Linked DNA regions of Homo sapiens. The protein of the gene in region 1 interacts with the protein of each later gene in a biochemical or structural test. Each region holds a gene or a part of one and is shown in the gene's direction. Other genes may lie near its edges.

Region 1 (7,588 bases):
TAAGCAATACCATTCAGGACATAGGCATGGGCAAAGACTTCATGACAAAAATGCCAAAAGCAATTGCAACAAAAGCCAAAATTGACAAATTGGATCTAATTAAACTAAAGACCTTCTGCACAGCAAAGAAACTATCATCAGCATGAAAAAGCAACCTACAGAATGGGAGAAAATTGTTGCAATCTGCCCATCTGACAAAGGTCTAATAACCAAAGTTGACAAGGAACTTAAACATATTTACAAGCAAAAAAACAAACAACCCCATCAAAAGTGAGCAAAAGATATGAACAGAAACTTATCAAAAGAAGACATTTATGCAACCAACAAATATATTTTTAAAAAGCTCAACAACACTGATCATCAGAGAAATGAAAATCAAAATTACAGTGAGATACCATCTCACACCCGTCAGAATGGCGATTATTAAAAAATTAAGAAACAATAGATGCTGGTGAGGCTGAGAAGAAAGAGGAAGGTTTTTACACTGTTGGTGAAACTGTAAATTAGTTCAACCATTGTGGAAGACAGTATGGCGATTCCTCAAGGATCTAGAACCAGAAATACCATTTGACCCAGCAATCGCATTACTGGCTATGTACCCAAAGGAATATAAATCATTCCACTATAAAGACACATGCACACGTATGTTTATTGCAGCACTATATACAATAGGAAAGACATGAAACCAACCCAAATGCCCTTCAGTGCTAGAATGGATAAAGAAAATGTGGTACGTATACACCAAAAAATACTATGCAGTCATAAAAAGGAATGAGATCATGTCTTTTGCAGGCACATGGATGAAGGTGAAGCCATCATACTGAGCAAACTAACACAGGAACAACAACAACAAAAAAAACAAATACCGCATGTTCTCACTAATAAGTGAAAGTTGAACACTGAGGAAACAAGGACACAGTGAGAGGAACAACACACAACACAGCCCGTTGGGGGCTGGGGGTGAGGGAAGGAAACTTACAGGATAAGTCAATAGGTGCAACGAACCACCATAGCAGAGGATACCTATATAACAAGCCTGCTCGTTCTGCACATGTATCCTGTATTTTTTAAATTTAAAAAGAGGAAATACGTACATACGTACATACATGCATACATACATACATACGTACGTACATACTTTTGAAAAACGTCTATACAGCTTGGATCTTCATTCCTGATAAGCCAAGGAACCTGGAGAAACACCAGAATTCTGTCCCTCTGAGAATGCCGGACAGGTTTACCTTCATCACCATAAAATTTTGGAACAAATGTGGTAACTGCAGGTTCTCCCCACAATGAGTAACTGAAAATTGAGGCAGTATTGCAGATCCTAAAAAACTGATGAAGTAATTCACCACACATTTGGGTTGTTTTTGCCTTTTCCTACTATGAAGATTGCTAGTAGGAAGAATGGTGTACAAGTATCTGTTTGATTCCCTGCTTTTAGAATCCTTTGCTTGTTTGTGTGTTTGTCTGTTCCTTCTTGAGACAGGATTTCACTCCAGTCAGCCAGGCTTTTCCAGTGTGTAATTTTTGTTGTTTCCTTTTGTCAAGTTTTAGAAGTTGTTATTTTACTTCTATTGAATTTTAAGGCATTTTTAGATATGTATTAAAACATTATCACACATGCCGTGTGTTACATTGCAATTATCTTCATCGTTCCTTTAAGAAACAAAAGGTTTTAGCTTAGATATCTTCCAATTTGTGAAGCTTTTCTGATTTTGACTTTTTTAAAAATGATGTCATATACAAGAAACCCTTGGATTAAAAATGCCATGAATATTTCTCTCATACACACAAACTGTTTAATATGTACACAATTGTTAAATAGCATTGTTATATATGAAATAAGGCAAATGTTTAGCTACTATCCTAGCCCGGTTCCACACCTAACATATTTGCTCATAATACTGACAAGTAAATCTGCTTCAACTCTTCCATAGTCACAGTGTAAGCAGTGTCCATTAAATTCTCTGAGGAATGCAAGAGGATACAACCTAAGACAAAAAACTTAATTGAATCCTGATATATTATTAGTAAATAGGGTAATTGATGGATAAATGTAATGGTCTCGGTGGGTGGACAGTAGTTATATAAGGGCTGATGCAGCAAGATAATTATTTAAAAGAGTTTGAAAGAAATGGAAACAGAAGAGTGGATGTATTCAGCTAAAATAAAATCCGGAAGCCCTGAAATAAATCTCATTTTGGGTGTAAAAAAATGGCATTAGAGGAGATTCTGGGTCAATCATCAAGCTGTGAAAGCTGCATCTTGGAAGCAGGATCCCTGTAATGCAACGAGACTTGTATATCAGAGGTGGTCTTTCAGTGGAAAAGATTTTGAAGAATGGACCCTTCCTTTTGTGTATTTGACGATTAGACTTCATGCCAAATCTCGGGTTTAAAACTCTATTTAAACATTAACAGAATTAATTAAAATGGCAAAAAATCAAGAAATTTTTTGATTAGGAATCATCACATATTCATTTCTTGTTAGGTACAGTTATCAAAGATGACCTACCAGAGAGAAACGATTGTGGAGAATGGCCCCTTACTTTTGTATATTTGCTGATAAGATTTCATAGTCCATTTATCATTAGGTACAAAGATCAAAGTTGACCTACCAAAGAGTTGAGATGTCCAGGACAGAACTCAGGGCTCGGTAGAACCACAGAATCTTGGGTGAAATATTGCTCAAGAACAAAAATGTGCTTATTCAGAGTGTTTGTGTGTGACATGTGTGTGAATTAAAGTGCAATGAGCATGACACGCAGGCAGGACATCAATTCGGCTCACCTCAAAAGCAGTTATGAGCATTAAAGGACAACAATTCCTAGGTCCCGCTTAAAGAGATAAGACCATCCAACACCCTGTGTGAAGCCACGGCATCTGGATTGCTCATGTTTCTGGGGAACATTCTTCTGAAAATGGCGGCTCCTTTCTCCCTGTGGAGCATCTTTCTAAGCAGTGCTCCTTTCTTCCCCCAGGACACTTTACATCGGGCATAGGAAGCCTTCTGATGAAGCACACCTGGCCCATGAAAAGACAAAGGAAAGAAACAGGGCCAAAGGTCACAGCCCACTCATTTCATCACCATCCTTAAAATCATCCTAATTTCATGGGCCATGAAGCCAGGGCTGTTTCTTTACACCCAGAGGCCTTGGCGCCGGGCCTCAATTCTGCCCTGTTCCTTACTGTCTAAGACATTTTGGGAAAATCCCTAGAGCCAGGATCTTCATTCCTGGTAAGCCAGAGAGCCTGAAGACACACCCAAATGCTGTCCCTCTTAGTTCAGGGAACATGTCCACTTTCGTCAGCATTACAATTTTTGCATCAAAGGTGCTAACTGCAATTCCACCATACAATGCATAACTGGAAATGGAGGGAACATCTCAGAGCATGAACAACCGATGCGAGAATCCAGGAGATACACGGTTTATTTTTGCCATTTCCCAGTGAAACAAGAGCCAGTATTAAAAAGGTTATGCTACCCTCTGTTTCACTCACTGCTTTTAAACGTCTCCGATGTTTTCTTCTTCAGACAGGGCCTCACTCCCGTCACCCGGGCTTTTCTACGGTATAATTTTCCTTGTTTGCTTTTGTCAAAATTAGAACTTTTTATTTCATCTCTATGAAATGTTGATCCATTATCACGTAAGTATGGAAATAGTATCACCCATGCTGTGAGATACGTTGTTTTTATTTTCATCAGTTCTTTAATAAACAAAAGCTTATAGTTGGGATACCTTTGGATTTCTCAAGTTTTTTGTTTCAAGTTTTCTTAAACTGCCGCCGCACGTCCGAAACCACTCACTATACAATGTCAGGACCATCTCTCTTTTCTGGCACACATAAATTTGGGGAATGTCATCAATTAGTCTCTCGGTGATTGCATGATTTCCCCAAAGTCTTTCACAGCCTACTTTGTGCACTGAGTAACTCTTCAAACTTCAGTGCATGTTTCTACCATTTGATGCTTTATTATTTGGCAGCCTAGCTTCCACAAGAGCATTTCATGCAAAGACTTGTCTTGTTCTCCACTGGCCAGTAATTTCACTCGGATAGAGAGTCAATAGGCTGAACGTGGAAAGGTTATCCCTGGAAGGTCTGTTTGATGCCACGGATATCTCCTTTATTATTAAGGAAGAAAATACGCTGTGCTAAATACTATACTTCATTGACTATTCTCAGGTCAGAAAGCGCACTTCAGACTTCTTGTCCTTCCGTCGATGAGAGGATGACGGTAGCTGCCAAAAGTACATACTTGGAAGTTCATCCCAGCACAAGCACACACACACACACACAAACACACACACACACACACACACACAGAGAGATACACACACGGTTTCATAGGTAAAGATTTCTTCCCTGACATTCTTTTACCTAAAATAAGGCAACTGTGTGGCCACTGTCCCAACCCGGTTACACTCATATTATATGTGCCTATCACCCTGAGGAGTAATTTGATTCAGGTGTTCTAGAAGTCATGATGTGGGCTGTGTCTGTTGAATTCCCAGCGATGCAAGGGGACACACCCTGTGACTCATTCCTTAATTGAGTGCTGATATTTGATTGGTTTATCGCACACCTGATGGGTGGGTGGGGTGTTCGCGGTTGGTGGGGGTGAGTTATATAAGGGCTGATGCGGCCAGAGAGCTCGTCATTTGAAGACTCTCTTGGAAGAGATAGCGTCTTGCTGCAACCTGCAGTCCCAGCAGAAAAACCTTGTGATCCTTGTTGCGGGCGACATGGAGGACGACTCACTCTACTTGGGAGGTGAGTGGCAGTTCAACCACTTTTCAAAACTCACATCTTCTCGGCCAGATGCAGCTTTTGCTGAAATCCAGCGGACTTCTCTCCCTGAGAAGTCACCACTCTCATCTGAGGCCCGTGTCGACCTCTGTGATGATTTGGCTCCTGTGGCAAGACAGCTTGCTCCCAGGAAGAAGCTTCCTCTGAGTAGCAGGAGACCTGCTGCGGTGGGGGCTGGGCTCCAGAATATGGGAAATACCTGCTACGAGAACGCTTCCCTGCAGTGCCTGACATACACACCGCCCCTTGCCAACTACATGCTGTCCCGGGAGCACTCTCAAACATGTCAGCGTCCCAAGTGCTGCATGCTCTGTACTATGCAAGCTCACATCACATGGGCCCTCCACAGTCCTGGTCATGTCATCCAGCCCTCACAGGCATTGGCTGCTGGCTTCCATAGAGGCAAGCAGGAAGATGCCCATGAATTTCTCATGTTCACTGTGGATGCCATGAAAAAGGCATGCCTTCCCGGCCACAAGCAGGTAGATCATCACTCTAAGGACACCACCCTCATCCACCAAATATTTGGAGGCTGCTGGAGATCTCAAATCAAGTGTCTCCACTGCCACGGGATTTCAGACACTTTTGACCCTTACCTGGACATCGCCCTGGATATCCAGGCAGCTCAGAGTGTCAAGCAAGCTTTGGAACAGTTGGTGAAGCCCGAAGAACTCAATGGAGAGAATGCCTATCATTGCGGTCTTTGTCTCCAGAGGGCGCCGGCCTCCAAGACGTTAACTTTACACACTTCTGCCAAGGTCCTCATCCTTGTCTTGAAGAGATTCTCCGATGTCACAGGCAACAAACTTGCCAAGAATGTGCAATATCCTGAGTGCCTTGACATGCAGCCATACATGTCTCAGCAGAACACAGGACCTCTTGTCTATGTCCTCTATGCTGTGCTGGTCCACGCTGGGTGGAGTTGTCACGACGGACATTACTTCTCTTATGTCAAAGCTCAAGAAGGCCAGTGGTATAAAATGGATGATGCCAAGGTCACTGCCTGTAGCATCACTTCTGTCCTGAGTCAACAGGCCTATGTCCTCTTTTACATCCAGAAGAGTGAATGGGAAAGACACAGTGAGAGTGTGTCAAGAGGCAGGGAACCAAGAGCCCTCGGCGCTGAAGACACAGACAGGCGAGCAACGCAAGGAGAGCTCAAGAGAGACCACCCCTGCCTCCAGGCACCCGAGTTGGACGAGCGCTTGGTGGAAAGAGCCACTCAGGAAAGCACCTTAGACCACTGGAAATTCCCCCAAGAGCAAAACAAAACGAAGCCTGAGTTCAACGTCAGAAAAGTCGAAGGTACCCTGCCTCCCAACGTACTTGTGATTCATCAATCGAAATACAAGTGTGGGATGAAAAACCATCATCCTGAACAGCAAAGCTCCCTGCTAAACCTCTCTTCGACGACCCGGACAGATCAGGAGTCCGTGAACACTGGCACCCTCGCTTCTCTGCAAGGGAGGACCAGGAGATCCAAAGGGAAGAACAAACACAGCAAGAGGGCTCTGCTTGTGTGCCAGTGATCTCAGTGGAAGTGCCGACCCACACGTAGGGGTGAACGCACACACACACACGCACAAATACACCCACAAGCGCGCACGCAAACACACACACACACACAAACACGAACACCGTCAATCCTACATAAAGTAATGAGGAGTCCAAGTTTCTGTCTCTACAACAGGGACAACTGGATAGTGATGGCTGCATCTCAGGATGAGCCCACACATGGGAAACATCAAGTTTTGGGGTCGTGAGTCTTCCGAACCTCTGGAGAGACTGTCTGTGTGTTTGTGTTCATGGTAGATGACATTCACTGTGTATTTCTGAATATGACCTACTGACGTGTAGGTTTGAGTGTGAGGTTATTGCAGGGGACTCGGTTTCCTATTTTCTCTTGGGGTGTGTTTCATTCGTCAGTTGTTGGGCGGCACGAGAAGGTGAAATTTTGCTCATGTGGCACATCCATGGATCATTCTCGCCACCTTGAATAGTGGAAACTGGAATGCATTTAGAAGATAGGAACGGTGCTCTTCTTTCTTACCCTGGCTCACCGTTTTTACATTGGTTTCTGAATGGACCTCAGGCGCCCTGGGACTTGTGCTCTTGCTGGAACCCACATAACGCCGGAAACAGACAGACCGACTTGCCTGTTTCACGATGTCCAATTCCAATGAGTCGAAATGGAAAATTTTCCCACTGGCATGTCAGTCATTTGGAAATAAGTCGTATTGATAATAAAGGAAATCAAACACAGGAGTGTGTGTATTCAACTGAAATAAATTCAGAAAGCCCTGAAATAAACCTCATTTGGTGTGCTTACAAATGGCATTTGGGGAGATTCCGGGTCATTCGTCCAGCTGCGAAAGCTGCATCTCTGAAGCACAGTCCCTGTCCTGCAATCAGACTTACGTATCCGACGTGGTGTTTCCGTGGAAATGATTGTGGGAAATGGCCCCTTGCTTGTCTGTATTTGCTGATTAGATTTCATGGTCCCTTTCTCGTTAGGTGCAGTGATCAAAGTTGACCAACCCCAGAGGAAAGCTGCCCAGGGCACCACTCAGGGCTCCGTAGAACCACAGAATCTTGGGCGCAACCCTGCTCAAGCACCCAAATGTGCATACGAACAGGGTCTCCGTGTGACGTGTGTGAAAACTACAGTGTGATGAGCATGACTCGCAGACAGGTTATCGATTGGGCTCCCCTCAAAATCAGTTAGGAACATGAAAGCACACCGATGCCCAGGTCCCGGCTGCAGGAATAAGACC
Region 2 (7,024 bases), on another chromosome or scaffold:
GAGTCTCACTCTTTCGCCCAGGTTGGAGTGCAATGGCATGATCTTAGCTCACTGCAACCTCCGCCTCCCAGGTTCAAGCAGTTCTCCTGCCTCAGCCTCCTGAGTAGCTGGGATTACAAGTGTCCGCCAGTACACTTGGCTAATTTTTGTATTTTTAGTAGAGATGGGGTTTACCATGTTGGCCAGGCTGGTCTTGAACTCCCGACCTCAGGTGATCCGCCAGCCTCGGCTTCCCAAAGTGCTGGGATTACAGGCAGGAGCCACTGTGTCCAGCCTATTTACTTAGTTATTTAAAAGTAAAACATTTTTTAAAAAGGTAAGCAGTTTTCCAACACTGTCACTCCACAAGTGTTTTAAGTGACAGATCATTGCAGTGTGTCTCCCGATACCCAGGCCAGTCTGCTGGGGCACCATGCTGAGAACTGCTGTGAACCTGGGGCTTCAACCCCACTAGAAGGGGACCTTCTTTTTCTTCGGAGTCTGAAATGAAGGGTGCCAGGCAGCTCTTGGGGAAGAGTTTCTGCTTTGTCACCTTACTCCTGTCCCCTAATGCTGTCCCAGCCTTCAGGAATGGAGCTTTTGATCTGAGTCTGCAACCTGATTCCTGAAAGCTATTGATCAAGCACCCTGCCAGCGTCTCCGTCTCTGGTGCCTCTCCCTCACAGGCTCTCTATCTCCCACGTCAAGATGCAAAAGCCTAAAACCTCTGCCCAGTGTCTTGGTCAAAAAATCGAGCTGGAGCTAGGCACTCCCCCTGTCATAGCCCATAGCGGACACGGGGCTTAACAGGCCAAGGGCACTCCTGCCTGACAAACCCAGGATCCTGTCTTCTCAAAGCTTGTCTTAGAATGCAGCTGGTCGTCTGGAAATTGAGAGACAGTACAGAATAAACCCGTCTTTCCCCCACCTCCGCCTGCAGAGAAAAGAAATGCTGGGAACGCAGTACGGAGCGCCATGAAGTCCGAGGAACAGAAGATCAAAGACGCCAGGAAAGGTCCCCTGGTACCTTTTCCAAACCAAAAATCTGAAGCAGCAGAACCTCCAAAAACTCCACCCTCATCTTGTGATTCCACCAATGCAGCCATCGCCAAGCAAGCCCTGAAAAAGCCCATCAAGGGCAAACAGGCCCCCCGAAAAAAGTAAGTGCCCCATTCAGTCCTCTTCCTAACGTGGAGCAGTTTGGTTCCTCTGATGCCAGGGAAGCCTGCTCAGGTGCCCATGGGGGTTCAGTGGCCACCTCTCAGCCTCTCTCATGTCAAAGACTCAGATGCCCCGAGTCATCAGCAGGGATGCCACTGTTTGTCAGTTTCTGGATCTGGCATGGGTCCAGAGTTCAAGAGCCTCTCCTTCCTCCCCTCCTTACCCACCCCAGCATAAGCAGCCTTTGTTTTTTAAATTTATTTTTTTTGTTTGTCTTTTTTGGTGATTGGTGTTTTGTGTTTTTTTTTTTTTTTTTTTGAGACAGAGTCTCTTGTTGCCCAGGCTGGAGTGCAATAGTGCGATCTCGGCTCACTGCAAACACCACCTCCTGGGTTCAAGCGATTCCCCTGCCTCAGCCTCCTGAGTAACTGGGATTACAGGTGCATGCCACCATGTCCCGCTTATTTTTGTATTTTTATTAGAGACAGGGTTTCACCATGTTGGTCAGGCTGGTCTCAAACTCCTGACCTCGTGATCTGCCTGCCTCAGCCTCCCAAAGTCCTGGGATTACAGGCGTGAACCACCATGCCCGACTGTTGTGTTTTTTGAGACAGGGTCTTATTCTGTCATCCAGGCTGGAGTGCAGTAGCTCACTGCAGCCTCAACCTCTCAGGACCAAGTGATCCTCCTACTTCAGCCTCCCGAGTAGTTGGGACCATAGGTGTGCACCACCATGCCTGGCTAATTTCTTTCCTTTTTTTAGAGACGGGGTTTTGCTGTGTTGCCTGAGTTGGTCTTGAACTCCTGGGCTCAAGTGATCCTCCCGCCTCAGCCTCCCAGAGTGTTGGCATTACAGGCATGAGGCACTGCGCCCAGCCAGCAGCCCGTCTTTGAAACTCCTCTGAGGCCCTCATGGGCAGGTGACTGAGTGACCTGCAGGCTCCAGTGGACAAAGGTGTTTAAGTGACATCATCTCCAAGGAGCTGTGTGCCTCCTCGGTGTGTGCCTTCTAAGGAGCTGTGTGCCTCCAGGTTTTCAGTCCTGATATTTATTTTCTCCTCTTCCCCTCTTACCCAGAGCTCAAGGAAAAACGCAACAGAATCGCAAACTTACGGATTTCTACCCTGTCCGAAGGAGCTCCAGGAAGAGCAAAGCCGAGCTGCAGGTAGTCACGTGCTTTAAATTCCAGTTTGTGGAGGGGCAGGGTGGCCCACCAAGCAGTGCTTGGCGTGTGCGTATGTGTGTGTCCTCAGCCTTGTTTTCGTCATCTTGGAGCAAGTCTCTTGGCCCCTCTGGACTTGGTTTTCTCCTGGATCTATCGGGGATCCTCACAAAGCTTGTCCTGCCTTTCTGCTGGGGTCACTGCAGGGCTTGGTTAAGACACTTGTGTGAAGGAACCTTGTGACTTGTAGCATGTGGCAGGGAAAGCCAGGTGTGACTCTGAAGGTGGATTTTCCAGGACTTGTTGGCAGAGCCATTGGGAGCCTGGGACTGTGGGAAAGGCTGCCTGTTCTTTCAGAGGCTTTTCTTGTCTGTTTTCTGGAAGTTTCCATGTTGTGGCCCAGGGTGTTAAACAGCAGTGGCTTGGGGCCACTTGCTGGTTGCGTAGCCTTGGGCCAGTCACTTACCCTGTCCATGCCTTGGCTCTCCAGTCTGTAAAATGGTACAATAATGTAGTACCTGCTAGAGCTGTGGTGAGCATTCAATAAATGTGGTCATGCAAGAGGAACCCTTAGAACCATGCTTGGCACTCAGTAAGTGCCAGCTAACTGTTACTATCGCCACCTCTGCTTCCTCAGTGTTGTCACTCCCGTCTGCTCTTTCCCACGCTGCTGCCATACTAGGAGCCTGCAGACCAGTGAGCAGCACCGGCTGGAAGGCCAGCTGGCCTATGCGGGCCTCCGCTGCCATGTTTGCAGAGGGTTGAGCTATGCGGCAGGCAGTCAATATTTGCTGCAGTGAGGTGTGGTTATTGCCTTTCTGTGAAGGAAACGCAGGGCATGGCAGGTCCCTCTGCTCTTCCCCCTCAGGGACACCTGGGGCTGCCCCTCTGCTCTCCCTCACCCCCACAGTGACCACCGGGTTGGGAGAGGTGCTCAGGATTGCATCCTACACAGAGAGGTGGGGACCCCGGCTTTGGCAGTTTCAGCATTTCAGCCCTCATGCGGACTCCTTCAGCGTTCTTGATGTTAAATGCGCAGATACACAGTGGTCTAGTATTCTTTCTCTTTTTCTTTTAATTGATGAAGCTTCATTTAAAAAAAATTTTTAAAAAGGTCCATTTTCTTCCCCACAGAGAGCAGCTTTGGTTTTATTGCCTGAAAAAGGCAATGTCTTTCAGCCAAGAATGAGCTGTTTAAAACATTTGTCAGCAGTGGGAGGCTGTGCTAGGTCACTTTTTTTTTTTTTTTTTTTTGAGATGGAGTTTTGCTCTTGTTGCCCAGGCTGGAGTGCAATGGCGTGATCTCGACTCACCGCAACCTCCATCTCTTGGGTTCAAGTGATTCTCCTGTCTCAGCCTCCTGAGTAGCTGGGACTACAGGCATTCGCCACCACGCCCAGCTAATTTTGTATTTTTTTTTTTTAGTGGAGATTGGATTTGTCCATGTTGGTCAGGCTGGTCTCGAACTCTCGACCTCGGGTGATCCGCCCACCTCAGCCTCCCAAAGTGCTGGGATTACAGACGTGAGCCACCGTGCTCGGCCTGCTAGGTCACTCTTAAAGACAGCACTGGGCCAGGTGCAGTGGCTCACACCTGTAATCCTAGCACTTTGGGAGGCCCAGGTGAGCGGATCATCTGAGGTCAGGAGTTCGAGACCAGCCTGGCCAACATGGTGAAACCTTGTCTCTACTAAAATACAAAAATTAGCCAGGCATGATGGCAGGTGCCTGTAATCCCAGCTACTTGGGAGGCTGAGATGGGAGAATCACTTGAACCCAGGAGACGGTAGTTGCAGTGAGCCGAGATCGCGCCACCGCACTCCATCTTGGGTGGCTGAGCAAGACTCCGTCTCAAAAAAAAAAAAAGACAGCACTGCAGATGGTGAGGTGGTGCCAGACCACAGAATCCCAGACACCTCCCAGCCAGGGTTGGAGCTGCGGTGTGCCCACACACAGGGCCTCTGCTGAGCGTCCACCAAGGGCTGCTGTGGACTTTAGGGTGGGGGGAGCCGAGTTGGCCTTGTTAATAAGAAGCAAGAGTTTGTGCTGGGCAGAGTGAAGGCTGCGATGGGACAGGATGCAGGTCTGCTAAATCTTGCAGCAGATGAGCAGAAGGGAAGAACACACTTGCTTCCCTAAAGCACAGTCTGCAAACACAAGAAAGCTCGCCCTGTTCCTGGACCGGGAGCCGTGCTTTGCCCCCCACTGTTTGTGTTGGCTCTGCTGAGTGCAGCCATGCAAGCTGTTGCTGGCCAGGGCAGGGAGGCCATAGCTGGCCGGGATGACGTGGCTAGAGCTGGTCAGGGTGGAATATTTTCTGACTGCACAGATAAAGCCCAAGAACGGGACAGCTGGGGCTCATCTGAAGGGTGGGGTCAGTCCTGACTTGACTGCCATGCTGGGCCCAGGCTGTGGATCCAGGAGGGTGGGGCATAATACAGCCTGTTGTTGGCCAGATGGTCTGGGGTGAAACTGCAATTCAGAGCCTCTTATATACCTCCACTGAGGCTGAAGACAGCAGCCAGGGCGGGCCTAGCGCCAGGGCGTGGGTCCTGGGCAACAGGGTGGGATCAGGGCTGCTGGATTTGGACACAAGGTGGGCCTTGGAGAGATGCCCTATCCACCAAGTGCTTCACTGCAGGGGCCCCTTGGCCGGCCAGCCTGGCTGTGGGTGGGGTGGCAGCCAGCAGCGGGGCAGGGACCATGCCTCTTGGCAATGGCTGGGCTTCCTCATGCCCAGCTCGGCCCCAGGGCCAGATGTGCAAGCAGCCTGCTGATTCCGCTTGGGAAGGTCCCCTCCTTCCTGGTCACAGGCGCTTCTCAACTGCCCTAGTTCCAACCTTGTATCCCTCCCACTCCATCTCCTTCTAGGCCCATTTGTGGGTTCCTGCCAGAAGTCCCTTTAGAAAACCCAGGGCTGGTTGTTTGCAGGCCCCAAATTCCAGGCCTTTGGGAGACTCAGCCTCCCTGGCTTTGTGCCGGGGCATCTGGCCTGGTCCCAGCTTCCCTCTGCGCATCTCCTACCTGCCGTGTTTGGTCCCAGCAGAAAAACCCCCATTCCACTACCCCGGTCTTTCCATGATCACTCCCGTTTACATGGGCCCCCGTACTTCTCAGCACTCTCTGCACACTTGCAATGAATGGGTCACACAGCAAGGTGGTTATGTGTGTGATGGTGGTGGTGTTGCTTTGAGGGCCTGCTGTGTGCACTGTTCTAGACCAGGAGATTCCACAGTAAACTAGACCAGCCCGTAGGGCTTGTTTTCCAATGGGGAGTAATTAACAACAAAAAAGACACCAGCTACTTGGGAGGCTGAGGTGGGAGGATTACTTGAGAACAGAAGTTCAGTACCAACCTGGGCAACATTGTGAGACCCCATCTTTTGTGGGTTTTTTGTTGTTTTGTTTTTTTCGAGACAGAGTCTCACACTGTCACCTAGGCTGGAGTGCAATGGCGCGATCTTGGCTCACTGCAGCCTCCACCTCCCGGGTTCAAGTGATTCTCCTGCCTCAGTCTCCTGAGTACCTGGGATTACAGGCGCCCACCACCATGCCCAGCTGATTTTGTATTTTTAGTAGAGACAGGGTTTCACTGCGTTGGCCAGGCTGGTCTCAAAATGCCTGACCTCATGATCCACTTGCCTCGGCCTCCCAAAGTGCTGGGATTACAGGCGTGAGCCACTGAGCCCGGCCGTGAGACCCCATCTTAAAAAATAATTAAAAAGGCCTCCCAAGTAGCTGGGACTACAGGCGCCTGCCACCACGCCCGGCTAATTTTTGGTGTTTTTAGTAGAGACGGGGTTTCACCGTGTTAGCCAGGATGGTCTCGATCTCCTGACCTTGTGATCCGCCCGCCTCGGCCTCCCAAAGTGCTGGGATTACAGGCGTGAGCCACCGTGCCCAGCCAAAAAGTTTTTAAAATGTTTTTATTTTGCAATTTTTTTTTTTTTGAGACAGAGTCTCACTCTGTAGCCCGCGCTGGAGTGCAGGTGTGCGATCTCGGCTCACTGCAACCTCCACCTCCCAGGTTCAAGCAATTCTCCTGCCTCAACCTCCCAAGTAGCTGGGATTATAGGCGCTTGCCACCACGCCCAGCTAATTTTTGTGTTTTTAGTAGAGACAGAGTTTCACCATGTTGGTCAGGCTGGCCTCAAACTCCTGACCTTGTGATCCGCCCACCTTGGCCTCCCAAAGTGCTAGGATTACAGATGTGAGCCACCGCGCCTGGCCAATAATTTTAATTTTATAGAAAAGTTGCAAAGATAATACAGAGAGTTCCCCAGACTCCTTACCCATCTTCTCTCACTTAAGTTACTCTGGTGAATTTGTCACAGCTAAGTAACAACCAACATTGGTATATTACTGTTGGTTGAAGTTTTTTTTTTGTTTTTTGTTTTTTGTTTTGAGACAAGGTCTCACTCTGTTGCCCAGGCTGGAGTACAGTGGCATGATTATGGCTTACTAACCTCCGCCTCCTGGCCTGAGACTCCCAAGTAGCTTGGATTACAAGTGTGCACCACTATGCCCGGCTGATTTTTGTATTTTTAGTAGAGACAGGGTTTCGTCATGTTGGCCAGGCTGGTCTCGAACTCCTGACCTCAGGTGATCCACCTGCCTTGGCCTCCCAAACTGCTGGGATTACAGGCATGAGCCACTGTACCTGACCAAGTTTTGTTGTTGTTTTTTTTAAATCTATTCCACCAATATATATCTTTCTTTTTTT
Region 3 (7,024 bases), on another chromosome or scaffold:
CCACGGGAGGTGCAGTAACCACTCCCCCACGGATACTGAGGGACAACCGTGTATCCTGATGTAAAATGTGCGAAGGGTTCCAACTGGGTATGTATCAGAAGAGAATGTACATACTAGTTTTTTTCTGGAGCAGCGAGTAAGGCTTGACTGCCTGCAGTGTCCAGTCTTACGCCTGCATCTCCTTTCTTGAGTTGCCAGCATTGTTGTTTCTGCAGAAGTAGCAGCCTTCACCATAACTGCCTGTGCCTGAGACACCCTATTCTGTGGCTGCATTTCAGGTAAAGGCAAGCTTTTTGCATAAATCTGACTGTAAGTTGGAAATGGCCTTTTCTTTTCTGAAGTACGGCTGTCCCTCGGTATCTATGGGGGACTGGTTCCAGGACTTCATGGATACTACAACCTGAGGATACTCAAATTCTTTGCATTGGCCTTTTGTGTCCACAGGTTTCGTGTTTGCAGATAGGGATGGCCTACTAACTGTATGTAATGTTTTTCATTGATGGCTTTGTGCAAGCCTGCCTTGAATAGAAATTGATTTTACGGGAGTTTATTGAGTGCATACTCTGTGTCAGGTGACGCCAACTCCGTGAATTATGATTTTAACTAGCCCCTATTTCCTAACTTTATTCAGACACTGAGGATGCTAGTGAAACTGACCTGGCAAAGCATGATGAAGAAGACTATGTAGAAATGAAGGAACAGTGAGTATGATATGCCTATGTCTTTTTGGAACATAGAATTGACAACATCTTTATATAGATTGAGCATCCCAAATCTGAAATCTCAGATGCTCCAAAATCTAAAACTTCCTGAGTGCCAGCATGATGCTCAAAGGAAATGCTCATTGCACTATTTCAGATTTCAGATTTTTGGATGTGGGATGCTCAGCTGGTAAGTATATTGCAAATAATCTAAAATTTGAAAAAATCCAAAACACTTCTGATCCCAAGCATTTCAGATAAGGGATACTTAATCTGTAGTAACCTTGTGTGTATGAGTTTGACCATAGCGCTTCCAAAGACCATGTATGTTTACAATTTCTCCACTTTAAATTAATTACATTTAATCAGTCTTCCCGTTATAAGACTTTGTTGAGTACTCTCTAGAAAGAATCTTGAGGGCAATGGACCCAGGGGAGGGAATGAGGCCGTACAACAGGAGAGGACCTTTTACTACTTACTCTTTTTTTTCCTTGAGACAGAGCCTTGCTCTTTCGTCCAGACTGGAGTGCAGTGGCAGGATCTCCTCACTGCAACCACCGCCTTCCGGATTCAAATGATTCTCCTGCCTCAGCCTCCTGAGTAGCTGGGATTACAGGTGCACGCCACCACGCTCAGCTAATTTTTGTATTTTTAGTAGAGACAGGGTTTCACCATGTTGGCCAGGCTGGTCTCGAACTCCTGAGCTCGTGATCCGCCCACCTTGGCCTTCCAAAGTGCTGGGATTACAGGCGCGAGCCACTGCGCCCGGACCTTTTTTTTTCTTTTCTTTTTTAATGGGCAAACCAATGCACAGAGAGGGTAATTGTTGTCTTGAAGCAATTGGGTTCTCAGGTGAGTGTAAACTCACTGCACTAATGTGCTAGACAAGGTGCCGGAGGCCTGGAGAGCTCAGAGAAGCCACGATTGAAAAGCAGGCTGCTGACTCTTATTTATTTATTTATTTATTTTTATTTGTTTAATTTTTTTTTTTGAGATGGAGTCTTGCTCGGTTGCCCAGGCTGGAGTGCAGTGGTGCAATCTTGGCTCACCACAACCTCCACCTCCCAGGTTCAAGTGATTCTCCTGCCTCAGCCTCCCAAGTAGCTGGGATTATAGACATGCACCACCATGCCCGGCTAATTTTTGTATTTATTTATTTTTTTTGTGTGGAGATGGAGTGTCGCTTTGTTGCCCAGGCTGGAGTGCAGTGGCCTGATCTCGGCTCACTGCAACCTCTGCCTCCTGGGCTCAAGCAATTCTCCTGCCTCAGCCTCCCGAGTAGCAAGGACTACAGGCACATGCCACCATGCCCGGCTAATAATTTTCGTATTTTTAATAGAGACGGGGTTTCTCCATGTTGGCCAGGCTGGTGTCAAAACTCTTGACCTCAGGTGATCCACCTGCTTTGGTCTCCCAAAGTGCTGGGATTACAGGCGTGAGCGACCCTGCCTGGCCACATGCTGACTCTCAGGCCAGTGCTCTGTCCACGTTTGCACCTGCTCTCACCCAAACCTTCTCATTGTCTTCAGACAGAGCCACAGCCGAACAGATTCAGAGAAACGAAAACCTCACTCACTTTTAGCGTACACCCAGATGGAAAACGGTATAAAGTATATTTAATGTATATTTGTTGAATGTGTTAGGTTTTTAAAGTTCTTTACCTTTTAACAGGATGATCCACATTCATTTCCCTTTAGGTCCTTTTTGCAAATGTTTTGTGGCCATCCTCTGGATTCTCACATTGTTTTTGTGCTTTGGAACTCAAAGGGGTAATTCAGCTAGGTCTAACCAGTGCTGAATAAAGATGGATTACTTTTTTTTTTTTTGAAACAGAGTCTCACTCTGTCACCCAGGCTGGAGTGCAATGGCATGATCTCGTCTCACTGCAACCTCCACCTCCTGAGTTCGAGTGATTGTCATGGCTAAGCCTCCTGAGTAGCTGGGACTACAGGCATGCGCCACTACGCCTGGCTGATTTTTTTGTTGTTGTATTTTTAGTAGAGACGGGGTTTCACCATGTTGGCCAGGCTGGTCTTGAACTCCTGACCTCAGATGATCTGCTTGCTTCAGCCTCCCATCGTGTTGAGATTACAGGCCTGAGCCATCGTGCCAGGCCACTTTTTTTTGAGACAGTAGCCACTTTTTTTTGAGACAGTATCTTGTTTTGTTGCCTGGGCTGGAGTGCAGTGGCATGATAGCAGCTCACTGCAGTCTCAACCTCTGGGGCTCAATCCATTGATCCTCCCACCTCAGCCTTCCAAGTAGCTGGGACAACAGGCACGTGCCACCACGCCCAGCTGATTTTTAAAATTTTTAGTAGAAACTAGGTCTCACTGTGTTGCCCAGGCTGGTCTTGAATGCCTGAGCTCAAGCATTCCTCCTGTTTCGGCCTCCTGGAGTGCTAGGATTACAAGAATAAGCCAATGTGCCCAGCCTTTTTTTTTTTTTTTTTAAGAGACAGGGTCTTGCTCTGTCGCCCAGGCTGGAGTGCAGTGGCATGATCTCGGCTCACTGCAACCTCCAGCCCCTGGGTTCAAGCTATTCTTCTGCCTCAGCCTCACGAGTAGCTGGGATTACAGGCGCCCACCACCACGTCTGGCTAATTTTTTTTTTTTAAGTAGAGACAGGGTTTCACCATGTTGGCCAGGTTGGTCTCGAACTCCTGACCTCAAGTGATCCACCCGCCTCGGCCTCCTAAAGTGCTGGGATTACAGGCGTGAGCCACCTTGCCTGGCCTCCCTTAGTATTTGATGATACAGAAAAAATTTCGGTTAAAATGGAATGCCTTGTGTAATTCAAGGGGAAATCTAAAGTGCATCAGAATTTGCCCTGAAAGAGTGAGATGTGTGTGAGTCTCAAATTCTGCCTACTCTCCTCCCCTTACAGAGGGTTGGGTTGTATTTGCAGCCCTTATTTGAGCGCTAAAAAGGTTATCACGCCCATGTGCTCACTTCAGCAGCACATATACCAAAAGGTTATTGTGCTTGTTATATGTTGGACAGTGTTCTTTCAGATCACAAATCTTGTTTTTATCACTGTTAAATTGAGGGTGTTTTTCAGGTAGAAGCAAAAATACTTGCTGAAATGTGATTTATATGTGGAACCCACCTTCAAACCAACTTGCTGAAGTTATGACTGCCTATAATCCATTAGGTGTGAGAGGAAAAAACTAACATGCCAAATGCTTTTGCTTCGTGTGTGCTGTGTATTCCCATCCAGCTGGGGCTGCCAGTAAATGCTGCCTTTTAACTTTTCTTTCTGAATTACTATTATTTCTCTGATCCTAAAAGAGTAGTGCTTTAAAAAATGACATGAAGGTTTATTGACTTAGTTCTTACACTGCTAAGCATATCTGCATAGAAAAACATGCTGAAGGCATAATCTTACTCTCCTGTAACTTACAATCTAATTGTAGAGTTGATGTAAGAGTTGTGTTTAATGCCATTTCTACATTGTGTGTGTGCTTGCCTGTTTATAATTGTCATTTATTAAAATCTGCTATCGTTGCAAGTTTTAGACGGATTCTGTAAAGATGGGATAACATGGGAGAATCTACAAAATTAGAATAAGATTGAGGAACACAGGGTTCTTTCTTGTTCCTTTCTGATCCCTGTGGCTGCTGGTGCATTTTAAGCCAGCAAGCAGACTTTACTTTCCTCTCTTCCCTGAAGGACATTAATGACCTTCCCATAACAGCCCAGCTAATTTCTGTGAGTAGGTTATTTTGGAATTGAGTATTGAATGTTTTTATCTGTTAGTGTGACTTTTTTTTTTTTATAGGATGTATCAGGACAAACTGGCTTCTCTCAAGAGGCAGTTGCAACAACTGCAAGAAGGTTGGTGTGTGATTGAATCCTGCATTTCTAAATATGCTTCTTAATATTACAAACCCTTGAAATCTGTGTATTTCACTTCTCTGTGGGAGTTATTTAAAACACGGTCTGGCTGATCTTAGCTATCCAGTACATTTTGCTATCTTTTGCTGTCAGTAAAGTGGTGATTTTCCAGCTCCTTGATTTTGAAACATTTATTTCCAGTATGTGTGAGATTCTTTCTTCAAATGAAATCTCACTTGGGACTTTCAATGGAGCACGAATTGAACGCCACTGTGCCTAAAGCTAGAGATTTTTAGGAGAGACATTGTTATCAAAGAATAAAGTTTTTACTGTTTTTTCTAAACCAAATGTTAATGACCTTGTGGATTATTCACACTGTGTTTTCTCCTTTTTGCTTGTTACATTAAAAGTAGATTGTATTTTGTCAAATGCTGCTAGCTGCTAAAGGCAGTGCAGCATCAGAGTTAAGAGTGCAGGCTGTGAGGCCAGGCGCGGTGGCTCACACCTGTAATCCCAGCACTTTGCGAGGCCGAGGCGGGTGGATCACGAGGTCAGGAGATCGAGACAATCTTGGCTAACATGGTGAAACCCCGTCTCTACTGAAAAATGCAAAAAATTAGCTGGGCGTTGTAGTGGGCACCTGTAGTCCCAGCTACTCTGGAGGCTGAGGCAGGAGAATAGCGTGAACCTGGAGGCGGAACTTGCAGTGAGCCAAGATCGTGCCACTGCACTCCAGCATGGGCGACAAAGCGAGACTCAGTCTCAAAAAAAAAAAAAAGAGTGCAGGCTCTGGAGTTTTGTGAGGGATTGGAATCCCAGTTTCCCTGCTTCTAGTAATGTGACCTTGGACATGCCAGTTTCTCTTGTTTAATCTGTTTTCTGATCTGCAAAATGAAGCAAGTAAGAGTAGATGTGATTATGCATGAGGAGCGTCTAGCACAGCAGTGTGCACACTGCAAGGTCCTGGGGACAGTTAGCTGTGGCAGTGAGCTCTTCGGTTTCATATTGTGGAGTCCCCTTGTCAGTGAAACTGTTTTTGCTTTTCTTTTTTTTTTTTTCGAGGCTGAGTTCCGCTTTTGTCACCCAGGTGGAGGGCAGTGGCGCGATCTCAGCTCACTGCAACCTTCACCTCCTGGGTTCAAGCGATTCTCCTGCGTCAGCCTCCCGAGTAGCTGGGATTACAGACGCCTGCCACCAGGCCCGGCTAATTTTTGTATTTTTAATAGAAACGGGGTTTCACCACATTGGCCAGGCTGGTCTTGAACTCCTGAACTCAGGTGATCCGCCCACCTCAGCCTCTCAAAGTGCTGGGATCACAGGCATGAGCCACCATGCCCAGCCTGATACTGCTGTTTCTACTATGTGCTTTTATTGCTGGTGAGTGATCCACGCCCTTGGACTAGCCCATGGTCAGGCATTATAATCAGGAAACACTTCCCCCCACAAGATGGGCCCCTCATAATTAACTGTTTTGTGGGAAGAGCAATGAAATGAATAGCGATTTGGTTAGAATCTATACCTGAATTGTTTAATGCTGTCACTAGCCACATGTGGCTGTTTAAATTTAATTAATAATTTAGTTCTTCGGTTCCACTAGCTACATTTCAAGTGCTAAAATAGCCACAAATGGTTAGTGCCTGCCATGTTGGACATTGCAAATATAAAACACACCATTGCAGAAGGTTCTACTGGAGAGCGTTGACCTAGACCTTACTGAAGGAGAATGAACCTTTTCCAGTAAAGGAAGGCCCGTTGATTCAGACTGTTGCAGCAACTGATCAGAATAGTGTGGAGATATTGGCAATTTTCCACTCCCCCTCACTCACTACAGACCCTTGATCCACTGGGTTGGGTAGACTTTGAATGGGCCCCTAGTGGTTTCTGCTGTGTGCCTTGGTTAAGAACCAGAGTTAACTTTGCTGAGGTGTGTCTTCCTTTGGTGTTACTGAAACAGTCAGTGTTGATGCTAGATAATAATTTTAGGAAGCAAAATGTAGAGCAGATTTATATTCACAATAATTTTATTTTTCAAATGTTCAAAATCAGGTACATTACAGGAATATCAGAAGAGAATGAAAAAACTAGATCAGCAGTACAAAGAGAGGATACGGAATGCAGGTAAGGCTCCTTTAAATGGCAATGAATCATCTTTCAATGTTTGACCATTTGCCGATCGTCGGTGTAATGCAGCCCTAAGAGCTATTCTCCAAAACATATCCCAGATACTCTGTCAGGGAGAGTTTTCAGAAAAGAGACTTCCAAGCTGCAGTTATGGAAAGTGGTTTCATCTTCTGCTTCTGTTGCTAAGGAATGGCCCAGAAGTGGAGGGTGTCTGAGGAGGCTCCTTGGAGTTAGGTTGTTCTCCCTGGTACCCCAAGAGTAGTCTTGCACCCTCTTGCTCATTTCTGCATGGCTGGCCTGATGTACAGTCAGAAGTGCGGATGAGGAAAAGGATTGTAGGTTGTTTTTGTCCCATTTTAAGTTTTT
Region 4 (7,058 bases), on another chromosome or scaffold:
CATTCATCCTGAAAGAATCGGGTTGCCTGGCTACGCCATACCTATAAGCACTGAGGCTGCATCTCTCAGCCCCACGACCTCAGCATGTGCTTCCTTCACTTGTCCCTGATGCCAGGCCATTCATAGAAGTTTCTCCCCGGGTGCCTTCTTTGTCCCTCCTCCTACCTCTGAGATCCCACTTTATCATCGTTCACTCCCACTGTGTTATACCTCCACTGCTGCAACTGAATGGTCTATCTAAAGCATGTAAACACCTTTTAGCTCAACCAAAACCAGCTATGGTAACACAATTTTTAGGCCATGTGTGCAGCTGAGATGCAAGTATTATCTCAGAAAAGAAATGTTAGAAACCAGTGAAAATTACAGGTCACTGTAAATAGAAAGAAAATATAGGTATTTTAACGTGATTATCACCATCTTTTGTAAGTATATTTCCATAGTTATTTTTCTGATTACTCAGAATTCTAATATAGATGATGAAAGAATCTTAAGAACATGTTTCAAACATGTCATAACAATATGCCAAGAACATACAGGTATTCACACACACACACACACAAAGGAAAAAGAAGATATGGGTGTCTATCAAAAGGGAAAAATTAAAAAAGATGATGGCAATTATACAAATATGAACATAGTACTGACATGTTGCACAAAGAAAATTATAGAGTAGTAGAACCAATGGAAGCAGCATGTTCCAAAAGACAGTAATGTTTGTTTTTTCCTCCTTAAATGTTATAAGCTACTACTTTATATCTATTTTTTCCCTCATGGCAGATATCAAAATCATTTCAAGTTTCACTGCTCAAATGCAGTGCAATAGATCACATGCAACAGTAAAAACAGAAAAACCCAGGTCATTTCCAAATTGACAGAAAGAATTTATTTAGAAGACTGAACTTTAAAAATCATTTAAAGCTCAGAATTTTACAATGCAAAAAGTTGATAATACAATTGACTTTTCCTAAGCTATTTAGCAAACTTTCGGTAATATAGTTCAGGGGAAAACCCAAGAAAATATCTTGGAAATGTCTGAGAAGGGAAAGAAGAATGCATTAAAATGTACTGCATTTATATTATGCTATTTCTGTTAAAATTATAGTTTCTCATGATTATTACTCAATAAAGATAACATGTACACAAACACATAAATCAGGTTAAAAAGTAGGGTAACTTGTTTCAAGGTTAAACTAGAAGTGTATTTTAAAATAATTGTGTAGTACATTATAGCAAAATCTCATTTCTGAGTTTCTGGAAAATATATTTTATAAACTCAAATAGCCAATATAAATCAGAAATGAATTAGATTTAGGTGTACATTATATAATTATTATTTGTAACTAAATTACACATTTCCTTAACAAGTTAAAAATTATAGACCAAAATTTAAAATTTTATGTTTATTTTAGTGAAAACAAAATTGTACAGGTATTTGATATATAAATGTTCACACATGAAATACATTCCTTGTGTGACATTAAGAAGTCTTTCAGTGTAAGTTACACCACCATATTTGGAAATAAGTCCATGAAATGTAATTTTTAAATACCTGTAAGATGATTTGCAACTTTAGAATATCTGGTATGTAGTGTGAAAATACTGGTTGGAGTCATTATTCTTGAGTTCTATATATTAATTCTCAGAAGACTCCTAAACAAAGAAGTTGGAATTTGGTTCACAGTTTAAAAAGTTTGAACATATTTTCTTATGATAACCTGTTACCCACAGCAGAAGTTATCCATAAACAAAAATAATCTGGTATTTACTAATTTTATACAATCAATTGTAAAACTGCCTTGGGTCTGAAGCTTTCACCAACTGGGACTTAATGTGAACCATAAGCAGGAAGAGTGAACAATGATAAATTAACATAAAAGATAGCAGTATCAGGAAAAGAAGAGGACAGAGAGTTAACACTCAGTACTAACATATATAATTAAATAAAGTTTCATTGTTTTTTACATTGTCCAAATGATCTAGTAACCTAAATCATGGAATTTCTGATCTAGCAATGGTTGTTGTCAAATTCAGTAACTAAAAATTCAACCCAGTGTAGAAAAGACACTTCTCTGTTAATTTAATATTTGTAGCTTACTATTTTTTTAATAAATGATTTATTCAAATAAATTCTAGCCATGATGTGCTGCTTCCTATTTGCTGGCAATTATTTCTGGATTATATAAACATGTTAATTACCAGCAAGTAAATCTTGTTTTAAAAGGCAAATGATAAGTGTGAACAATTATCAAAATGGAGGATTCCCACTTGTGTCTCTGGCTTAAAGTCTAATTAGTGACTTGTAGTGATCCAATATTTTTATGTAAATATAAAATCTAATGATTTGCCTTCTTAAATTTATAAGGTATATGAGATTATAGATAGCTTTATAAATACAAATTTTGTTCAGAAAACTGGATCTTATTTTAGAAGACATGCTCTTAACACAAATGTATTTTATGAATTATCTTAAGCTTAAAGACATACAATTATTCACTTTTATTTTTAAAGAAAAAAGTATTATAATGCATTGCAAAATATGTGCTACTGAAAATGCATCAATTTTTATTTCCCTAGCCTTACCTCACACTATAACATAGAATCAGTTTTATAAAGGCAAAAATTTGATTTACTGTGAGATTAGTAACATGGTTTTAAAGTCAAAAGATTTATAGAAGTAGTATTTCCAATTCAAACAGAATTTTGCCAGGTTTTAATTTTTCTACAAAGCACTTAAGTAAATAATTTTGTGAAAAGTTTTGCTTTAAGATGTTTTAAAGGGTTTCAAGTATTCTACAGATAGAGATTTTGGGGAGAACACCAAATTCTTTCCAAAAAGACAGCTATTTCAAGTTTTCTTTTACTCCATTGTAGAAAGTTTTAAAGACTTTTTTTTCTCCAAAATCTAATTTTCACCTGAAATAATTGTATTCAAGGGTTTCTCAGCAGGTAAAGTATACATTCTTACAAGGTTTCAAATTTCAGATTTCCAATAATGCATTTAAACTGAGCACTCCTCTTTTTGTGTATGTATCTACTATCTGCAGTTCTATTATTTACACTAAATTTTAGTCTTTTTAGCTCCTCTGAAATACGTTAGTGAACCCTCAGCAGTTACTAACCACTTAATAATTGTGAGCCCGCCAGCCCCTTCAAGTAGATCGTTAACCATAAGAGTGCCTGACAATTTCCAAACCATATCCTCTGTCTAAAAGGAAAAGATAGGGCTTTGTGAGGCAGAAAGGAAGCGAAGGAAAACAAAACAAATGTAGCTCATGCTGAAAGTGAAAAGTGCTTGGATAGATTAGTATTTTCTTTTCTGCAAGGCATCCTGCCAAACTTTTTCTTTATTTTTTTAAGAGAAGAGTTATTTTTTGGTCTGATTTTTCAGTTTCTTGGAAAGTATTGGTATTTACCACCCCCATTGGCCGCTCATAATTATTGTTGGTTGTTTTGTGTTTTTCCCATCCGTCCACGTCACACAGTGAGGATGCCCCCCGCTTCACCCTGTCAAAACCCCAACTCTGGGCGACCCTGGGTTTGGAAACTCCGCCGACTCCCGACGACACGTCCCACTCTCTCCCACTAATGCCGCTTATTTTAGTCGCAGGATCCCCCTACTACAGTTTCAGCGAAAGCCGGAAATTTTCATTTAACTCTCCCCCCCACCCCCACCCCCACCGCGCCCTTCTAGCCCCCGACTCGTAGAAGGGAGCTAGGGAGCCCGGAGCTCGGAGCACTGCCGGGACTCGGCCGCCTCATTTCTCTCCGGAAGGCTTTAATTTGCACACTTTCTTGCCACTGCGCCACGAGCCCCCAGCCCCGCCGGGGGGTGGGTCTCCGGCAGAGTTGGCTTCGCGGGTCCCTGCCCCCACCCCGCACGGTCGCCCCAGCTGCCTCCCCGGCTGGGGCCCCCAGCGCCGGCCGGAGCCCAGCGGCCCCCGTCCGCCCCCAGCGAGCGGCGCGGGCGGCGCCCTCCGCCGTCCCTCCGCCCTCCGCCGCTGTGCCCACCCCCTCGCCGGAGAGAGTGCTGGTAACTCCTTCCCCAGAGTCTGATTACCTGCTCCGCGAGGCCGCGGACACGTGCGGAGAGCCGACTGACACTCGCAGCCCCCTCGGGAGGCCCGACGCGACTGGGCCCCTCAGGTGAGGAGCTGTGCGCTCGGGTGGGTGGGCTGCGGGGTGGGGGGTCCCGGGGGAGATCTGGGGGATTGGCCGGGGTCCGAGGCAGAACTGTGGGTGGGGTAAGTGGAGGGTGGCGGGGGGTGGGGGGGACCTGTGTTTCCTTGGAATCGGCTTTGGTTAACCCCTTACGAACTGAGACGGGATTGGTTATGGGGGCCAGTTTTGGGGAGCTAGAGGATTCTCCTTATCTGATGAGAGGGGGAGATCCCAGCCTAGGGACACCCGCGACACCGAGATCCTGCTTCCACGTATCCGTACGCACACACACCCACACGGAACACGCCTCATACAGTTTCTCCAAACGGAACTGGAACTCTACTCGGACACTCACATAATAATTCACATTTAGGGTTTAAAATGCACTGCCTCTAGGGACTCCATGCTGGAGAATGTGCTTGCATTTCCCCCTCGAAAACTCCCTCTCCAGCTCGCTGAGGTGTGGGTGTGGGCTCCACCTTCCCCTCCACGAGATAAATGTTAACGCAGGCTTCCTGCGGGCGTGTTATACACAGAAAAGTGCACGCAGCCGGCCAGTGCCCAGGCTTGGAGCCCCGCGAAGACGCACGTTTGCTGTAGTTTCCAAGTTTACTTTTATAATTTAAAATATTGGAGTTAAACACACGCCCCGCAGTGAGCAGCCCTGGTCCCCGCAGCGCGCCCGTCCGTGTGCATATGGGCGCATCTGCGTGTGCGCACACGCGGGAGTCGCGGTCCCCGGTGTGGCCTCTTGTCGCTGTGCTGGTGGCGACCCTTGTGGTGCTTGGCAGGCTTCGGGAGAGGCGCATGAAGGATTTCATTGAGTGTGAAGACAGAGAGCAGAGACAGAAAGCAGAAGGAGGCGGCTGCAGCCTTTGTAGTCGCGGAGGAATGCGGAAATGTTGAAGCACTATGTCAAACTTTTTTTGAAATGGGGTCAAGTCACATTCAGCCAGCGTGGGAAAGCAACAACAACAACAAAAAAAAGTGGAGGAGAGGGGGGGAAAAGGCATTGCTGCTCCCGTTTCTCTCCGCCGAAGCCGACCGTCTGGGGGGCGAGTGGGGGGAGAGCCAGGGCAGTGCGGGGCCCGGCGGGGGCAGCAGGCGCAGTTCCCTGCGGGGGTGGGACGTCCCCGACGCTTCCTTCGCTGCGGAGCCCGGGGCTAGACTCGAGCGGGAGGGGGTTGGGGGGATGCAGGACAGGCGGGTTGGGCGGCCGGCGGCGGCTCCCCGGCTACCTGTGTGGCCCTCGACCTGGCTCAGACCCCCGGGCAGTCCCTGGGGGCTCTTTCCTCGGCTTTTAAGGAAAGTTCTGAATGTAGTGAGTGCCAGAAGCTCTGCTCTCGCCGCGGTCCGCTCCACCCGCTCATCGTGGGGGTCGCGCCGTTTGTTTAATTCCTGGCAAAAGGCGAGCGGGCCAGCGGTTGCGAGGCAGGTAATTCCGAGGTGCCCCGGGAATTCCGGACATGCGGCCGTCGTGGTGAAAGTCCTGCCGAGGCCGCGGCGGCCCTGGAGGAGGGAGGCCCCCTAGGTCCCAGATAGCTGCTGAATGGGGAGGGAAAGTTAGGGTACCCTACTCTGGCGCTTTGTTGTGCAGAGGGCTCCGGGGGCGTCCGGCTGCAGACTGGACCGGGCCTTTAGCCGGAGGGGGAATGGGGCAGCCACCTCTGCTACCTACAGCGGGGAGGTCCTGGGAATGGGAAAAGGTTCGCGAGTCCGGGCCCCGAGGACAGAGACCTTCTCTCTCACCCCTGGAGGCGCAGGATTTAACCCCCCACCCCCCACCCTTTGAAAGGGAGGTTGAGTTTTGCTCAGGTCGAAATCAGTTTAAAACTTAAGGACGAGGCGCGATTATGCTATCCCCTTCCTGAAGTTATTCTTTAAGGAGACGACAAGCGAAATTGTGGCGAACACCCCTTTCTCCCACCCTTGGGATCCCGTGGGGGACGGTGTCTCCCCTCCCCCAGGACCGCTCGCTCGCCCACCCCCGATAAGCCCCAACCCTCCCCGACCAGATGGCTGGTCTTCCCAAGGTTTCCACCAGGGAGGTCCTCCCAGCCGGAGAGAGAATTCCGTTTCCAACCGAGACTCCTTTACCCCAAAAAGACCATTTGTGTATGCGAGTCGTTTTTAAATGTCTCCTCGTAGAAAAACTGAAAGTAGAAAGAAAGGAAGCAATTTCTGAGCAGATGTCTGACCACCCCTTCTCGCACACTCCCAGCATCGGGTTACAGGGTCCTGGGAGCCCCCACCCACATTCTGCGGCCCCACACGGATGGACCCACAGTCCTTCCGCTCCAGCTTGTGCGCGACCCCTGAACGCCCTCCGGCACCCCTGGACCCCGTCTCCCTGCACGTCCGGGCCTCAGGAGGCGGGGAGGGTAGCGGCGCAACACAATGATATAGGGATAAATATTAAGCCGTGACATTGACGTGCCCGGCGCCTCCCCTCCCCCGCGCTCCCGGCACACTCTGGGCTGCTCGGCACGCCCCCTCCCGTTCCACTGCGTCCCGCGCCGCTCGCTCATCCCCGAGGGGCCCCTGCAACCTCTCCGCGCGAAGACGGCTTCAGCCCTGCAGGGAAAGAAAAGTAACTTCGCTTTTCTCGGAGGAACCAGGAAGGATTAAGCGGCTTGGGAGAGGGCAGGAGCGCGCGGAGGGTAGCGATGGAGGCTTCGTAAAGGAGGAGGAGGGGAGTCTGGAGGAACCCCGAGGAAGGCTTCTGGGCTGTCTGATTGCACTTTCTTCTTATCCTCCCGTCTCCTCCTTTAGGTGCAATGATTCTGGACTGAGACGCGCTTGGGCAGAGGCTATGTAATCGTGTCTGTGTTGAGGACTTCGCTTCGAGGAGGGAAGAGGAGGGATCGGCTCGCTCCTCCGGCGGCGGCGGCGGCGGCGAC

Evidence for each region.
Region 2: the proteins of USP17L2 (region 1) and KMT5A form a complex in vitro, tested with the Homo sapiens proteins (one study listed by BioGRID).
Region 3: the proteins of USP17L2 (region 1) and SUDS3 form a complex in vitro, tested with the Homo sapiens proteins (one study listed by BioGRID).
Region 4: the proteins of USP17L2 (region 1) and CDK6 form a complex in vitro, tested with the Homo sapiens proteins (3 studies listed by BioGRID, with this or other methods).

The regions. Positions count from the first base shown.
Region 1 is NC_000008.11:12,135,923-12,143,510, reverse strand, and holds USP17L2 (ubiquitin carboxyl-terminal hydrolase 17), read left to right. Parts: upstream 1-4,661; 5' UTR 4,662-4,750; coding exon 4,751-6,343; 3' UTR 6,344-7,076; downstream 7,077-7,588. UniProt on the Homo sapiens protein: Deubiquitinating enzyme that removes conjugated ubiquitin from specific proteins to regulate different cellular processes.
Region 2 is NC_000012.12:123,394,128-123,401,151, forward strand, and holds part of KMT5A (N-lysine methyltransferase KMT5A), read left to right. Parts: intron 1-919; coding exon 920-1,139; intron 1,140-2,217; coding exon 2,218-2,305; intron 2,306-7,024. UniProt on the Homo sapiens protein: Protein-lysine N-methyltransferase that monomethylates both histones and non-histone proteins. Specifically monomethylates 'Lys-20' of histone H4 (H4K20me1).
Region 3 is NC_000012.12:118,379,531-118,386,554, forward strand, and holds part of SUDS3 (sin3 histone deacetylase corepressor complex component SDS3), read left to right. Parts: intron 1-631; coding exon 632-701; intron 702-1,439; exon of another isoform or gene 1,440-2,158; coding exon of another isoform or gene 2,159-2,304; intron 2,305-2,329; exon of another isoform or gene 2,330-3,854; intron 3,855-4,481; coding exon 4,482-4,537; intron 4,538-6,583; coding exon 6,584-6,655; intron 6,656-7,024.
Region 4 is NC_000007.14:92,833,563-92,840,620, reverse strand, and holds the start of CDK6 (cyclin-dependent kinase 6), read left to right. Parts: upstream 1-4,047; 5' UTR 4,048-4,143; intron 4,144-6,661; exon of another isoform or gene 6,662-6,818; intron 6,819-6,930; 5' UTR 6,931-7,058. UniProt on the Homo sapiens protein: Serine/threonine-protein kinase involved in the control of the cell cycle and differentiation; promotes G1/S transition. Phosphorylates pRB/RB1 and NPM1.